Linked DNA regions of Homo sapiens: region 2 is linked to region 1. A link means that fine-mapping ties the variant in region 1 to the expression of a gene that starts in the linked region. Tissue or cell type: whole blood. Region 1 holds a variant in brackets; the other region holds the start of a gene. All regions are shown on one strand. Distances are from middle to middle.

Region 1 (8,103 bases):
AAATTCAAAAATTAGCTGGGCATGGTGATGCATGACTGTCGTCCCAGCCACTTGGGAGGCTGAGGCAGGAGGATTACTTGAGTCCAGGAGTTCAAGGTTGCAGTGAGCTTTGATCACGCCACTGTACTCCAGCCTGGGTGACAGAGCAAGACCCTGTCTCAAAAAATATATAGATAGTAGTAGTGTTTGCACCTTTGAAAAATAGAGTTGCATTTTGAAGAGTCTAGTAAAATTGTGACCACTTTGACCTAACCTTCCATCCTTTAAAGCAGTAATTCTAAAACTCAGTGTTCATAAGTACCTGGAACACTTACACACATTCTGGCCAGGTGCTGTGGCCCACACCTGTAATCCCAGCACTTTGGGAGGCTGAAGCAGGGGGATCTCTTGAGCCTAGGAGTTCAAGACCAGCCTGTGCAATACATTCTGGCCAGGTGCTGTGGCTCACACCTGTAATCCTAGCACTTTGGGAAGCTGAAGCAGGGGGATCTCTTGAGCCTGGGAGTTCAAGACCAGCCTGTTCAATATCGCGAGACCCCATCTCTACAAAACATTTTTTAAAAATTAGCTGGATGTGATGGTGTGCGCCTGTATTCCCAGCTACTCGATAGGTTGAGACTGCAGTGAGCCGTGTTTACACCACAGCACTCCAGCCTAGGTGAGAGAGCAAAACCCTGTCTCATAGAATAAAATGTTTAAAAGTACACATTCTAAGGTCCTATCTCAAGAAATACTAATTCATTGAATTCAAAGTGGAATCCATAGCCAAGGAGTAGTGTTAGGTAAAAAGAAAACAAACAAAGTCGGGCACCAGTGGCTTATGCCTATAATCCCAGCACTTTGGTAGGTGAAGGAGGGCAGATCACTTGAGGCCAGGAGTTCAAGCCCAGACTGGCCAATGTGGTGAAAACCCATCTCTAAAAAAAATACAAAGATTAGGCCAGGGACGGTGGCTCACTCCTGTACTTGAACACTTTGGAAGGCCGAGGCGGGCGAGTCATTTGAGGCCAGGAGTTTGAGACTAGCCTGGCCAACATGGCAAAACCTCATCTCTACAAAAAATACAAAAACTAGCTGGGTATGGTGGCACTTGCCTGTAATCCCTGTTGCCCAGGAGGCTGAGGCAGAAGAATTGCTTAGATCTGGGAGGTGGAGATTTCAGTGAGCCAAGATTGTGCCACTGCACGCCAGCCTGGGCAACAAAGCAAGACACTGTCTCGAAAAAAAAAAAAAAAAAGATAAAAATTACCTGGGCATGGTGGCAGGCACCTGTAGTCCCAGCTACTCAGGAGGCTGAGATGGAAGGATCACTTGAGCCCAGAAGGCAGAGGTTGCAGTGAGCGGAAATCTCACCACTGCACTCCAGCCTGGGCGACAGAGTGAGACCCAGTCTCCAGAAAAAAAGTGGAGTTCGGGAATCTGCATTTTTAATAAGCTCAGCGTGTGATTGTGATACAGTTGGTTTTGAAAAAATGCCTTTTCATGTTCAGATGTGAAGAAGGGAGAACTGACACTGATTGAGCTGGTTCTGTATGGCAGCCATTTGCTGACTTACACGTTATCCCGAGCTATGGATAGGCTAGTTCGTTTTCGTTAACAAAGCTTCTCTTGTCTCCAACTATGAGGCATGGGTCATGTTTGTGATTCAGGACTCCAGAAACATAGAACCTGAAAATGCAACTTAAAATGGCTTTCTACCTCAGCCCAAATCTCAGAGAATGTCTGCATACTACATTTTTTAATATGCTGTGGGGGTTCTTCAGATGTGGATGTAATTTTTTTTTTTCAAAGCATGACATCAGTGCTTTGAAGATCATTAAATGTCACTTCTTAGGAGGTACATTTTACCTTGACCTGGTACAACAGCCTCCATGGAGTTAAGACCTGCCCAGAGCGTGGCTTCTTCTGGTATCTGGTTTCACATGAGAAACTGGAGGCAGCCTGTCAAAGAGGAGTCCCTATTCCTTATTGAGTCCAAACCCCCATGAGGAGCACCCCCCAAACAGAAGGTAGCATCTCCGAGTGTGTCCAGGTGTCTGTGTTGCACAGCTTCGGGGAGCATGATTGACACAGTATAGGCAGTATGGCCGCACCACCTCCGTGATGTCCTCTGGGATTGTCCTGAGGCTGCCATCTGACCCCCACGATCACTCATCCACATTGTTCAGGTATCCATAGTGCATGTTAAATACTGCAGATAGATTTTATTTTAAGCACACACACAAACACACACACTAGTGCCTCCCCTCAAGAATCTTACTTAGGAGAAAAAAACACGACAGATTAATGGGAGAAAGATATTAAGAATTGTAAATAAAACCAACTGATAAAATTCATGTAACATGGCCAGGCACGGTGGCTCACGCCTGTAATTCCAGCCCTTTGGGAGGCTGAGGCGGGTGGATCACCTGAGGTCAGGAGTTTGAGACCAGCCTGACCAACATGGGGAAGCTCCGTCTCTATTAAAAATACAAAAATTAGTTGGACATGGTGGCGGGTGCCTGTAATCCCAGCTACTCGGGAGGCTGAGGCAGGAGAATCACTTGAACACAGGAGGCAGAGGTTTCAGTGAGCCGAGATCACGCCATTGCACTCCAGCCTGGGCAACAAGACCGAGACTGTCTCAACAACAACAACAACAAAAAGTATGTAACATAAACCTGAGAAGGGAATGCATTCTTAGATGAAAAATTTAGGATCCAAAGAGAACTTAATAGGTTGCAATGGGGAGAAGTAAATGACAAGATGAAATCAGAAAAGAAAGAATGTAAAACCCTACCCTGGTCCAAAAAGTCAGCCACACTTAGCATGTAGCATGCAGCACAATGGTAAATAATCGGATTTCTTCAGGCATGGGGAGAAGACCTTGGTGAAGGAAAAGATGTGAAAGGGAATAGTTGGTGGAGGGCTTGTACTCCATAAAGGGAGATAGGATTTAGCAACATATGTGAAAACAATTTGGGGATTTGTTGATTAGAAGCTCACAATTGGCAGGGCACAGTGGCTCACACCTGTAGTCCGAACACTTTGGGGGGCTGAGGCAGGAGGATTCCTTAAACTTGAACTGGAGTTCAAGACCAACTGGGGCAATATGGTGAAACCCCGTCTCTACAGAACACACAGCCAGGTGTGGTGGCACGTGCTTGTAGTCCCAGCTCCTGAGGAAGTTGAGGCGGAAGGATCACCTGAGTCTGAGAAGTCAAGGCTGCAGTGAACCATGATCTCGTCACTGTACTCCAGCCTGAGGGACAGAGCAAGACCCTGTCCCCCGCCCCCCAAGAAAAGGAAAAAAGAAGCTCACAGTTTATCAGTAGTGCAAGGTGGGGACAACAACAGTAATGCTGTTAAGTCTATTATTAAAATTGAGTATCCCCGATAGAAATGGGAGGGAATGGTCTACTCTCTGCTCTGCTACCAGGTCACGTGGGCACTCACTGTGGGAGACACTTTAGTCTTAGTGAAAGTCTTAGTGAAAGAATAAGCAGGATGTTTAGGAGACAGTTGGAGTGAGGCACAGTTGAAGGAAGTGGGACTGTTTAGCCTAGAGAAGGTGTATAACACAGCAGACCTCATAATTTGAGGCCAGTCAGATAAAAGCAGAATTTGAGTTTGTTTTCTTTTGTTTTTTGTTTTTTTACATGGCCCCAGAGAACCGAATTAGAAGCATTGGGAGGCAGATCTGGGTTTAAAAGGTGTAAACATTTCTAGCAATTAGAAAAGTCCAAAAATAGAATGGCCTTCTGGTAGGAAATATGCCCCCTTACAGATTCAACACAGTAACACACCTCATACAGAATGGTCAGGAAAAAAGTCTGTTAGTGTAGACAATAAAAATGATTGGCTGGACGTGGTGACTCATGCCTATCATCCCAGCACTTTGGGAGGCGGAGGCAAGCAGATTGCTTGAGGCCAAGAGTTCAAGACCAGCCATGCCAACATGGTGAAACCCTGAAATTAGCAGGTGTGGTGGCTCGCACCTGTGGTCCCAGCTATCTGGGAGGCTGAGGTGGGAGGATCACCTAAGCCCAGGAAGTCGAGGCTGTAGTGAGCCGTGATTGTGCCACTGCACACCAGCCTGGGTGGACAGAGAGAGACCCTGTCTAAAAAAAAAAAAGAAAAGAAAAGAAAAATTATATATTTCTTCAATGTTAAGTAATGATTGATTTTAAAAACTACTCCAGGGCCTTGAGTCCTCTCCACCAGAAGTAGTCAAGAAAGACTTGGATCACTGAGGGGTATTTAGAGGAGGTTCTCTTGTGGCTCTGAGTGATTGTTAAGGTCTCTTCCAACCAAAGGACAAAAGAATTCACTTTGTGACGTACAAGTAGTGCAGATGTTGAGGGCTGCTAATGGAGTCAGAGAAGATGAATGAAGTGTAGGCCTAGTCCATAGTTGCTGGAGGGATACCTGTGTACTTGGGAGAGGTTAGTGTGAGGTTCCTGTGGAGTCCTTTGCTGGACTGAAGGTCATGTGAAGTCAAGGACTGCATCTGTCTTGTCTTGTCTTGTCTTGTCTTGTGTGCCCAGGATGTCTAGCAGTCCCTGTCACATAGTAGGGCGTTACGAAAGATTTGTGGAAGGTAGGCTGGCAGACTGGACAAAGGCTAACTGGCGTCTTGAAGGACTTATAGGCTGGGATGGGCGGCTCACACCTGCAACTCCAGCACTTTGGGAGGCCAATACAGGAGGATCACTTAAAGCTATGAGTTTGAGATCAGCTAGGGGACATAGTAAGACCTTGTCTCTACAAAAAAAAAATTAGCCATTAGCCAGGCGCAGTGGCTCACGCCTGTAATCCCAGCACTTTGGGAGGCC[A/G]AGGCAGGTGGATCACCTGAGGTCAGGAGTTCGAGGCCATCCTGGCCAACATGGTGAAACCACATCTCTATTAAAAATATGAAAATTAGCCGGGCATGGTGGCGTGCACCTGTGAATCCCAGCTACTCAGGAGGCTGAGGCACGAGAATCACTTGAACCCAGGTTCAAGACGAAGGTTGCAGTGAGCCGAGATCGCGCCACTGCACTCCAGCCTGGGCGATACAGTGAGACTCTGTCTCAATAAATAATTATTTGCCAGACATAAGTGGTGTGCCTCTGTGGTCCCAGCTACTCTGGAGGCTGAGGTGGGAGGATTGCTTGAGCCCAGTTATTTGAGGCAGCAGTGAGCCTTGATTGCTAACAGAGCAAGACTCTGTTTCAAAAAAAAGAGAAAAAAGAAAAAGACCTTACCAAGCTTAAAAGACGATGAGGGAATGAATTGATTGCTTAAATGTAAAATAACTGCAGGTTGGGGGAGTAATATGTGAACTTTCAGAGGTGCCAGGGGAAGCAGACAGCCTGCAGGGTATAGCAAAGGGGGTTGCCTGGGGCTTGAAGTTCCGGATTAGGGAATAATAGCCACAAGTGCCAGTAGTGATCTTTGGGGGGAGGGGTGGGTGGGCGAGGGTTTGCAAGGAGCTTGGGATTTCATTTGATAGCAAGGCTAAGCCCAAAAGAATTTTCCATCCCGACTTCCTCGGGACCCATCCGCCTGAAAGGAATGAAGGAGCAGTGTCCTGGGTCTCTGCAAGGAGCTTTTCTTCTCCCTTGGGCTGAGAATTCTGCCTTCCTGAGTACCGCAGGTCATGGCAGCCGGGGAGGGGCGCGTGCTCTCTTGATGCAGGGGGTCTGTTGATGTATCTGGTATGAATGTGACCCACGCCACCCAACCCCCCAAGTGAAACAGGGATTTTCCTTTGTTCTGTGATGAGTCCCCAGGGTCTGGAGGACAGTGCCTCACACACACAGTAGGCACTTACATGTTGCTGAACTGCATGTTGCCTAAGTGTGTTGAAGACTACAGATGTCTCCGAGAGTCCACTCTTGTGCCACGCGTAGAATAAATACAATTAGGAGCAAATTTGGTAAAGGAGCCTAAACACAAACCTAAGGGGAGGCCTCCTGGACGTGGCTGTCTAGAAGGCAAACAGTGTGGTTCAGAGTGACTAGAGCCCAAGGTTCAGTGCTTCTGGCCCAGAGCTAACTGGCAGTGTAGAAACAGACTGTGTGTGGATATTTGCAGACTGAGACAGACGGGAGGACTTTCATCCCCAGGGGCTGAGCCTGCAGCCTCCCCTGCTGGTTCAGTAAGTGAGGGCCCCAGCGCCTGTGTTCCAGGTTTCAGATCAGCTGAAGCCAGCCAGACCTGAAAGGCTTGTGTTGGCAGTGCCAATATCCGTCCTTAACCCCTGCCAATGTGGGTGGCTGCTCTAAGAGCACTCTGCAGGGGAAGCAGAATTGGACTGAAGCCCGAGCTACTGCTGCCTATAGCTTGCTCTCTGTGACGCTTTTGCCGCTGAGAATGTACCTTTCTGGTACAGCCGGAGCCGAGAGCTCTAGAAAAGAATAGTTTCTGTCCATGAAGGAACAGTTCAAGAAGAGCAAGCTTACTCTGCCCATGGAAGACCAGACTCCTATCTGGCTTTGTTTGGAACATCTAAGCTCAGGAAATTCAGGTGGGTAGAAAATACCATATTGGGGATCTTCTCATCACTACTTTCATATTGGGAGACATGAGGCAAGGATCCAGCTGGGTCTTATTTAAGAAAGATACCAGGCTGGACACGGTGGCTAACACCTATAATCCCAGCACTTTGGGAGGCTAAGGCAGTGGGATTCCTTGAGGCCAGGAGTTCGGAGTAGCCAAGAGCAGCCCGGGCAACAAAGCAAGACCCCATCTTAGAATAAAATAAGATACTGTTGGCCAAGCAAAGTGGCTCACGCCTGTAATCCCAGCACTTTGGGAGGCCGAGACAGGTGGATCACTTGAGGTAAGGAATTAGAGACCAGCCTGGCCAATATGGTGAAACCCCATCCCTACTAAATATACAAAACTTAGCTGGGTGTGGTGGCACGTGCCTGTAGCCCCAGCTACTTAGGAAGAATCTCTTGAACCCAAGAGGTGGAGGTTGCAGTGAGCTGATATCTCGCCACTGCACCGCAGCCTGGGGTGACAGAGCCAGACTCCATCTCAGAAAAAAAGAAAGAAAGTTACGTTGCAGGGTTTGCAGGGCCTCCTCAAACCCTCAACGATCCCACTAGCAAAGGCAGAGCCACCGCCCGTACCCCACTGTGAAGGGACCTCATGGACAAGGCAATTGTGACTGTATTTCTGATACATTTATTAGTGGCCCGCTTGTTCCGAAGCCCGGGACCTTGGAGCCTCTCTAGATTACTGGAGTAATGCATGCATACCTATGGTTAGGTCCGGAGTCTTTCTGAAGAATAGGGAGAGGGATTGCTGAAGAGAGGCAAGGTCTTTCCTCCCCTGCTTGGCCAGCCCAGTAGCCTGGATCTAGCACCTTAGTTCTGAATAAAATATTTCAGGCCCTGAGTGGTGGCTCGTGCCTGTAATCCCAGTGCTTTGGGAGGCCAAGGTGGGAGGATCACTTGAGGCCAGGAGTTTGAGACCAACAATATAGCAAGACCTCATCTTTACAAAACAATTTTTAAAAATTAGCCAGCTTCCCGCTTGAGCTCAAGAGACTGAGCCTGCTGCAAGCCATGATGACGCCACTGCAAACTCCAGCCTGGACAAATTTAAAAAAAATTTTTTTTGCAGCTTCAACAGCCAGGTAAGCATTCCAGGGCCTCTCCCCTTGGCCCTAGGCTATGTGCCAGCCCCATGCTTCCCACCTTGCCTCTCAGACTGGCTTCCAAACAGCTCAGCCATGTTAGGCAGTGCCCCTCCCACCTCTGAAGAGAGTGGAGATAAGAGGAAAAAAAAATGCCAGCTGCTCAATTATCGAGCACCTACTGGGCCCAGGCATCTCGCTAAGTATTTGATATGTATTCCCTCTGTCTTTTTTTTTCTTTTTGAGTCACGATATCACTCTGTCACCCTGGCTAGAGTGCAGTGGCGTGCTCATGGCTCACTGCAGCTCTGACTTCCCCGGCTCAAGCAATCCTCCTACCTCAGCCTCCTAGTTAGCTCGGACCATAGGTGTGTTGCACCACCATGCCCAGCTTTTTTGTTTGTTTGTTTGTTTTTGACAGACACAGTCTCACTATGTTGCCCAGGCTTGTCTTATCTTTTTTTTTTTTTTTGCAACAGAGTCTTGCTCTGTCA
Region 2 (8,103 bases), 210 kb before region 1:
GTGGTGCGATCTTGGCTCACTGCAACCTCTGCCTCTTGGGTTCAAGTGATTCTCCTACCTCAGCCTCCCAAGTAGCTGAGATTACAGGAGCGTGCCACCATGCCCAGCTAATTGGCCAGGATAGTCTTGATCTCTTGACCTTGTGATCCACCCACCTCGGCCTCCCAAAGTACTGGGATTACAGGTGTGAGCCACCGTGCCCAGCCAAAAATTTTTCTTTAAAAAGAGTAACTCCTGGGTTTTGACTTAAATGGTGGTACAATTTGTTGAGATTTAAAACAGGAGAAGAAATAAGTATTTGACAGGAAAATCAGATTTGATTAGCTAAGTTTGAATTGTTTATGAAACATCCAAGAGGATGTCCCTTTTTTAAAAATTATTTTTTGCCAGAAATGTGTGTATATTAGTATCTGCTTTATTTCTGAAGAATGAGCTTTTCAATCTATTTAAAGTACAGCTCTTTTTCCCTTATTTCTGATTGTTTACTCTGCCATTTTCCTTTAATTGTCTTCTATATTTGTTGAATGCTTAGCTTACTAATTTTCACTTTAAAAAGAAAGCATATAAGGTTACTTATAGGATTTTTCCTCTGAGAAGTGCTTTAATATCATGGATTCCATTATGCAATATTTTCATTATTATAATTTCTAAATAATCCAAGATTTTAGTCTTGTTTTCTTTTTTGACCCATGAATTATTTAAAATTGGTGGTTTTTTTGTTGTTTTTTTTTTTTAAAAAGACATTTATTCAGTGTCACGATCAGACTATTACATTTAGCAATCAACAGCTTGGGTGCAAAAAAAAAAAATACATTAAAACCCTTTGTTGGAATGCTTTACACTTTCCACAGAACAGAAACTAAAACAACCTGTTATACAACTAGTCACAAATACAGTCTTCGAGTTTTTTGCCCATACACATGAGTATTTGTCTAAAACATATCTTCTTTGTAGCAGCTAGGCCCTGCCACCACTGTGCTTGGCTTAGTTCACAAATCTGTTGTAACCTGTAGCTTCCCTGTCACTTCGCTGGCTCTCCTCTCATGCTAAGCTTTGTTGCCTAATTAAAATCTTCCGCCACTGCCATAGCTACTGCTGCTACTGGAACCGCCATAGCCACCTTGGTTTCGTGGTTTGGTAAAGTATTGGCCTGCACCACCATAGGGGCCAGAGCTTCTGCCTCCAAAGTTTCCTCCCTTCATGGGTCCAAAAATTGAAGACTAATTGTTGTAATTGCCAAAATCATTGTAGCTTCCACCTCCAAAATTGCTTCCATCATTACCAAATCCATTATAGCCATCCCCACTGCACGATATCCACCACCACCACAGCTGCCACCAAAGCCACCATGACCACTGAAATTTCCTTCACAACCAAAGTTGTCATTCCTACCGAAACCACCTCCACGACCACCACCAAAGTTTCCAGAAGTACTTTGACCTCTTTGGCTGGATGAAGCACTCACCATCTCTTGCTTTGACAGGCCTTTCCTAATTTCACAGTTGTGGCCATTCACAGTATGGTATTTCTGAATGACAGTCTTATCCACGGAGTCATGATCATCAAAGGTTACAAAGGCAAAGCCCCTTTTCTTGCCACTGCCTTGGTCAGTCATGATTTCAATCACTTCAGTTTTTCCATACTGTTCAAAATAATCACTTAGGTGATATTCTTCAGTGTCTTCGTTAATGCCACCAACAAATATCTTTTCCATAGTTAAGTGGGCATCTGGTCTTTGAGAATCTTCTCTTGAGACAGCTCTCTTTGGTTCCACAACTCTTCCATCCACCTTGTGTGGCCTTGCATTCGTGGCTGCATCCACCTCCTCCTCAGTGGCATATGTGGCAAATCCAAAGCCCCTGGAGTGCTTGGTGTTTGGATCTCTCATTACCACACAGTCCGCGAGTGTTCCCCATTGCTCAGAATGGCTCCTCAGGCTCTCATTGGTTGTTTCAAAGCTCAGCCCTCCAATGAAGAGCTTCTTCAGCTGTACGAGCTCTTTAGGAGACTCTGACTTAGACTTGGCGGTGTCCATGGGTGGAAAGTGTTTGTTTTGTTTTATTTTTGAGACAGAGTCTCTATCTGTCACCCAGGCTGGAGTGCAGTGGCGTGATCTCGGCTCACTGCAGCCTCTACCTCCTTGGTTCAAGTGATTCTCCTGCCTCAGTCTCCCAAGTAGCTGGGATTACAGGCACCCACCACCACGCCCGGCTAGTTTTTGTATTTTTAGTAGAGACGGGGTTTCGCCATGTTGGCCAGGCTGGTCTCGAACTCCTGACCTCAAGTGATCTGCCCACCTTGGCCTCCCAAAGTGCTGGGATTACAGGCATGAGCCACGGGGCCTGGCCTAAAATTGTTGTTTTTAAAAAAATTCCAAATGGTTAGAATGTTTTGCTTCATTTGTGGCTATTCACTTCTAGTTTTATTACTTTGTGCTAAGTAAATATGACCTGTACAATTTTTTTTTTTGACGGAGTCTCACTCTGTCGCCCAGGCTGGAGTGCAGTGGAGCAATCTCGGCTCGCTGCAACCTCTGCCTCCCAGGTTCAAGCAGTTCTCCTGCCTGAGCGTCCCAAGTAGCTGGGACTACAGGTGCCCGCCACCACACCCAGCTAATTTTTTTGTATTTTAGTAGAGATGGGGTTTCATCTTGCCCAAGCTGGTTGGGAACTCCTGAGCTCAGGCAATCTGCCCACCTCGGCCTCCCAAAGTGCTGGGATTACAGGCGTGAGCCACCGCGCCCGGCCAACTTGTACAATTTTTACTTTTAGAAACTGAATTCAAGGCTGGGCGCGGTGGCTCACGCCTGTAATCCCAGCACTTTAGGAGGTTGAGGCGGGTGGATCACCTGAGGTCAGGAGTTCGAGACCAGACTGGTCAACATGGTGAAACCCCATCTCTACTAAAAATACAAAAAATTAGCTGGGCATGGTGGTGGGCGCCTGTAATACCAGCTACTCAGGAGGCTGAGGCAAGAGAATTGCTTGAAACCAGGAGGCAGGTTGCAGTGAGCCAAGATTGTGCCACTGCACTCCAGCCTGGGCAACAAGAGTGAAACTCCGTCTCAAAAAAAACGAAAAACAAAAAATCTCAGCAGCTTTCATTGTGATACTGACTTAAATATGGTTGTCTTTCTTGTCATTTCTTTTTACCTGGTATTTCATGAATTCTTTAAATCTGATAATTCAAAAATTTCCACCAACGTAGTAAATTTTCTTCTACTATTTGATTATTGCTCTTCTGCAGTCAGCTGTATTATCCCCTTCTGGAACTCGTATTTAATTATTAATTTTTTGTACCCCTTCTCCATGTCTCCTATCTTTGTCTCTCAGTTTTTATCTATTACCTTTTCCTTCTGAGTTCTGGTAAATTTTCTTGAACTGGTTTAACTTTTGGCATATCTAATCTGCAGTTCACTGACACTGTTGCATTAAATGGGTGGTGCCATTTGTCCTAAGAAAGTTTTCTTGTTTTCCATTATTTTTCCAGCTGAAAAAAGAAATCATGCAATGGCCTCTCAAATTTCAATATGAAACAGATTATTTTTTAACGCTTCTTCCTATTTCTCTCAAATCTGGTGGCAAAGGCTGTCTTCTGCTCTGACCACTCAAATGGTTCCTCTTCTGAACTGTTGGATCTTTTCACCCATCATCTACTGACTTTCTTCTTATGCTTAACCTTCCGGTGACAAAGTGTCACGTAAAAGGAACTGAAGGAGTTCTGTCAGAGGTTGTGGCAATCCCTTCGGCTCAGACTAAGGAATAATTGGTAACTATTCTGTGATGGGTGTGGGGTAAAAGCCTATGGGGCTGTGGAGGGGCAACAGGTGGAGGCAGGAGGCCTTGGGGAAGGGAGCTTCACCTCTGTACAGTTCTCCAAAAAAAGATTCAAGTACCAGCCTTCTGGTATAGTTCAATTTTAAAGATGGGAAATTAAAAAGTCAACCTGAGATCCACAGCAGTAATTTTTTTCAAGAATCCATAGTGACACAGAAATTCCCAAATTGACTTTTTTTTTTTTTTGAGGCGGAGTCTCGCTCTGTTGGAGACTCCCGGGCTGGAGTGCAGTGGCGCGATCTCGGCTCACTGCAGTCTCCGCCTCCCGGGTTCAAGCGATCCGCCCGTCTCAGCGTTCCGAGTCGCCGGGATTACAGGTCCCAAATGGACTTATATGCCTCCTGATGTACTTCCTTCCACACGATTCCAACTATATCGTATCTAGTTTTTAAAAGTCAGGGGGCGGCCGGGCGCGGTGGCTCACGCCTGTAATCCCAGCACTTTGGGAGGCCGACGCGGGTGGATCACCTGAGGTCAGGAGTTCGAGACCAGCCTAGTGAAACCCCGTCTCTACAAAAAATACAAAAATTAGCCGGGCTTGGTGGCGTGCACCTGTAATCCCAGCTACTAGGGAGGCTGAGGCAGGAGAATCGCTTGAATCCAGGAGGCAGAGGTTGCAGTGAGCCGAGACCGCGCCACTGCACTCCAGCCCGGGAGTCTCCAACAGAGCGAGACTCCAACTAAAAAAAAAAGGGAATAGTAACAACTACTCTTAGCAGATCTTCAAGGTCCCAAGTAATGGCCCGCGGCGCTAGGCCGGGCCTGTGGCGGGAGAGCCTGGCCTAAGGTGTCCAGAGGAGCCCAGGCTGAGGGGTGTCTCTGTCAACCCGAGTCCCAGACTAGCAGTGTCCTTGGTGTCCACGACAACAGCAACGGCAGCCACCGCCGCAAACGCCCGCCTGGCCTGGCACGGCCCGGCCTCGCCTCACCTCAGCTCACCGGCGCCGCGCCTCCAGCTCCAGCCTCCGCGCGCCTCCCCGGCCGCACCTCTGCGCACGCGCAGCGCCCGCCCGCCCCACCCAGGCTCTCGCTCCGGTCCCGCCCCTCTGGAACCGGCGGCGGGCGCTTTTCCTCCCAGCGCGGCCACCGTCGTTCGGAAAGGGAGGGCGGCAGGGGGCGGGGAAAGGCCGGGAGGTGGGCGAGCGCGCGCGCCGCCCGTCTGTGGTGGTTTCCTGGCTGCGCGCGGCGGTGGCGGAGCCGCTACGGCTGTAGCAGCAGCCGCGAAGATGGCGGAAGGGCTGGAGCGTGTGCGGATCTCCGCGTCGGAGCTGCGCGGGATCCTGGCTACTCTGGCCCCGCAGGCCGGGAGCAGAGGTGAGTCGCGCCGCCCAGCTCCTGGGCCGGGCCTGCCCGCCCCGCCTCCCTCTCCTCCTCCTCTGCCTCCTCCCCGCTCGGCCCTCGGCTCCGGAGCCCCCGCCCCTTCCCCCAGCAGTAGGCGCTGGGGCCGCGGCGGACCCTCGCTGCCCTACCTCTCTCGCGGGTTAGTGCGGGGTCGGGCTCGGCCAGTCCTGGCCAGCTCCGGGAGAGCCTGGCCCGAATTCCTGCCTCCACCCTCTTTCTCGCCGCGAAGGTGACTGTTCCTTTTGCCCCAGCCCTCTCAGACCCGCCCCGGATTCCCAGGCATCGGGAGACGCGGAAAGGAGTGGGGTCTGGTGGAGGCCCCGGGCGTATCGCTCTCCAGGCCGCCCTCCGCGGGCCTGCCCCGGCCACCGCTTTAACGTCGGAGAGAAGGAATTGGGGAGAAAGGTTTAAGAGCCTGCGACTTCGTTGCTGAACTTTTCCCCCCCAAGACAGGCTTCCGAAAGCTGCGCCACTGGAGGGATCCGGGACCTCAGACTACTCGGGTTTGGCCCTGGCATGTGTGGGAGCAGTTTTTATTAGAGAGAATGCTCAATTTGCAAGTTAATTTCAAGTCTCCAGCCACGTCAGGAAAGTAAGAAAGATTCTAAGTGTCTCACCTCTCCTGCGTTAGGCAATAGAGTTGTGTAGAATGGTAGCTGTGATAGGTGCCTTCTCTAGGTTTGCGGCCAGTCTGTGAAATTGGTTTTTGTTGATTAACATAATTGGATTATTAAGGCTATTTTCTCCCGCTGCTCTAGAAAGTAGTAGGAATAGCTTTCCCCATCCCCCCGCCCCCCACCAAGTTACAGACTGCCGAGGGTGAGCTATTCTTGGGTTAAACTGCTTTATCTTTGTGGATACTTCATGAACCTACCTTTTAAACTTATGAAAATAGTGAAGCACTATCCAAAACCTCAGTCTCTTTTCTTCCCCTTTTCCTTACACCTACAAACAGTAAATGTACTTGCTGGAGCATATGATTCCTGTTTTGGGCTTGTTTCCATTTATATTTAGAGAGCAATACTAGGATTAAAAACTTTTTTATTGTTGTTATTATTATTTTTTGAGACGGAGTCTAGCTCTGTCGCCCAGGCTGGAGTGCAGTGGCGCGATCTCTGCTCACTGCAACCTCCGCCTCCCGGGTTCACGCCATTCTCCTACCTCAGCCTCCCCAGTAGCTTGGACTGTAGGCGTGTGCCACCACGCCTGGCTAATTTTTTGTATTTTTGTAGTGACGGGGTTTCTCCGTGTTGGCCAGGATGGTCTGGACTCCTGTCCTCGTGATCCGCCCGCCTTGGCCTCCCAAAGTGCTGGGATTACAGGCGTGAGCCACCGTGCCCGGCCAATTTTTTTGAGGCAGGGTCTCACTCTGTCTTCCAGGCTGGAGTGCAGTGGAGGGATCTCAGCTCACTGTAGCCTCCCCCTCCTGTGCTCAAGTGATCCTCCCACCTCAGCCTTCCGAGTAGCTGGAATTACAGACCTGCACCACCACACCTGGCTATTTTTTGTATACGTTATAGAGACAGGGTGTTGCCATGTTGCCCAGGCTGATCTCGAACTCCTGGCCTCAAGCAGTCCTCCCGCCTCAGCCTCCCAAAGTGCTGGGATTATAGGCGTGAGCTACTGCACCTGGCCTATGCTAGGATTTTATATAGCATTCCATTTGTGTACTTGATAATATTCTCCCGAATTCTGTCACTTTTCCATTGTAATGTTTAGTGGTTACTTTTGATAACGGTAACAGATACTTTTTTAAAAAACCAGATACTTAAGTAAGTATCTGTCCGCTGGGCTGGAGTGCACTGGCGCGATCTCCGCGTACTGCAAGCTCCGCCTCCTGGGTTCACGCTATTCTCCTGCCTCAGCTTCCCGAGTAGCTGGGACTACAGGCGCCCACCACCACGCCCGGCTAATTTTTTGTATTTTTTGTTGAGACGGGGTTTCACCGTGTTAGCCAGGATGGTCTCGATCTCCTGACCTCGTGATCCACCCACCACGGCCTCCCAAAGTGCTGGGATTACAGGCGTGACCCACCGCGCCCGGCCGAGAGTGGTTTCTAAAGTCCTGTATTATTCTTAATTCTTGAGTTCCCAGTTGTTGGCATTTTGAGAGTATGTCACAATCTTTCCATCAGCATCCAGGGAAAGTTCCCTTATGGAACTTTTTTCTAATAATTCCATCATCACAGTAGCAGTTAGTGTCAGTATTCTAGTATGATAGTCTGAGCAGTATTTTGGTAACTCTGTGAGCTACTGTTAGTGAGTTGGTGAGGATGGGTGAAGTTGAAGAATGGGAAAAGAACTGCTTGCTGTTTAATTCACCAGCAGGTATGTTATTTGGTAATTGGTATCTTGAAGAAGAGAATCATCCTGGTCAAGTTTAAAGACTAAAGTTGCATTTTTTTTCTCCAGAGATGTCCAGGACTGATAATTGTTATAATACCCTCCCTCCTTTTTCTCCTTTTTTACTTCTTCCTCCTGCTGTTATGTTAAAAGAACTTAGCCACCCAGGAAAAAGTTAGAGGCGGAAGAAAAGGCTGAGGTGGATTCACAGGCTCTATAGATAGAGAACAGTGTAGTGCTGAAAAGGTTAGAGAGGTCTTTTGTTCTGACAATAATGAGGTAGTTTGGGATCTTGGATTTCTGAATATGACTTGGATGACACATAAGGAGATGGGTTTCCCCCATTTCACTTACCCAAGTGTAGGTAGCCCCAACACAGTTAGGTCCTTAGCCTTGTGAATTGTTGAACAAGTGTTGTAAACCCAGAATTTCTGCTTCTACAGAAATGTCCTTCTTTGCCTACCAGTATTAGCATTTGGATATGTAATTCTTGCTCGACTTTTTTTGTTACTTAACCAGAATGACAGTCTTTCCCCTATCTTCCTTCTTTATTCTTATCTTCTACCTTTCCCTCCCAAACTCTT

The links. PIP is the estimated chance that this variant, and not a neighbour inherited with it, causes the effect.
Region 2: SMG6 starts here. The variant in region 1 is fine-mapped to the expression of SMG6 in whole blood (TOPMed, PIP above 0.99).

The regions. Positions count from the first base shown.
Region 1 is chr17:2,093,172-2,101,274 of GRCh38, reverse strand. The region is part of intron 13 of SMG6 (SMG6 nonsense mediated mRNA decay factor); the gene reads left to right. It overlaps SMG6-AS1 (SMG6 antisense RNA 1), which reads right to left. Exons shown (of 2, transcript NR_199038.1): 2 at 1-153. Among named protein-coding and RNA genes, the nearest start is that of SMG6-AS1, 7.5 kb to the right of the region's middle. The variant A/G (reference allele first, on the strand shown) is at 4,815.
Region 2 is chr17:2,300,680-2,308,782 of GRCh38, reverse strand. SMG6 (SMG6 nonsense mediated mRNA decay factor) reads left to right here and starts at 4,998. Exons shown (of 19, transcript NM_017575.5): 1 at 4,998-5,150. The coding sequence starts at 5,063. SRR (serine racemase) reads right to left here and starts at 4,833. Exons shown (of 8, transcript NM_021947.3): 1 at 4,766-4,833. It also overlaps the pseudogene HNRNPA1P16. RefSeq lists silencers at 4,749-4,968, 5,159-5,368 and enhancers at 4,870-5,596, 5,926-6,740.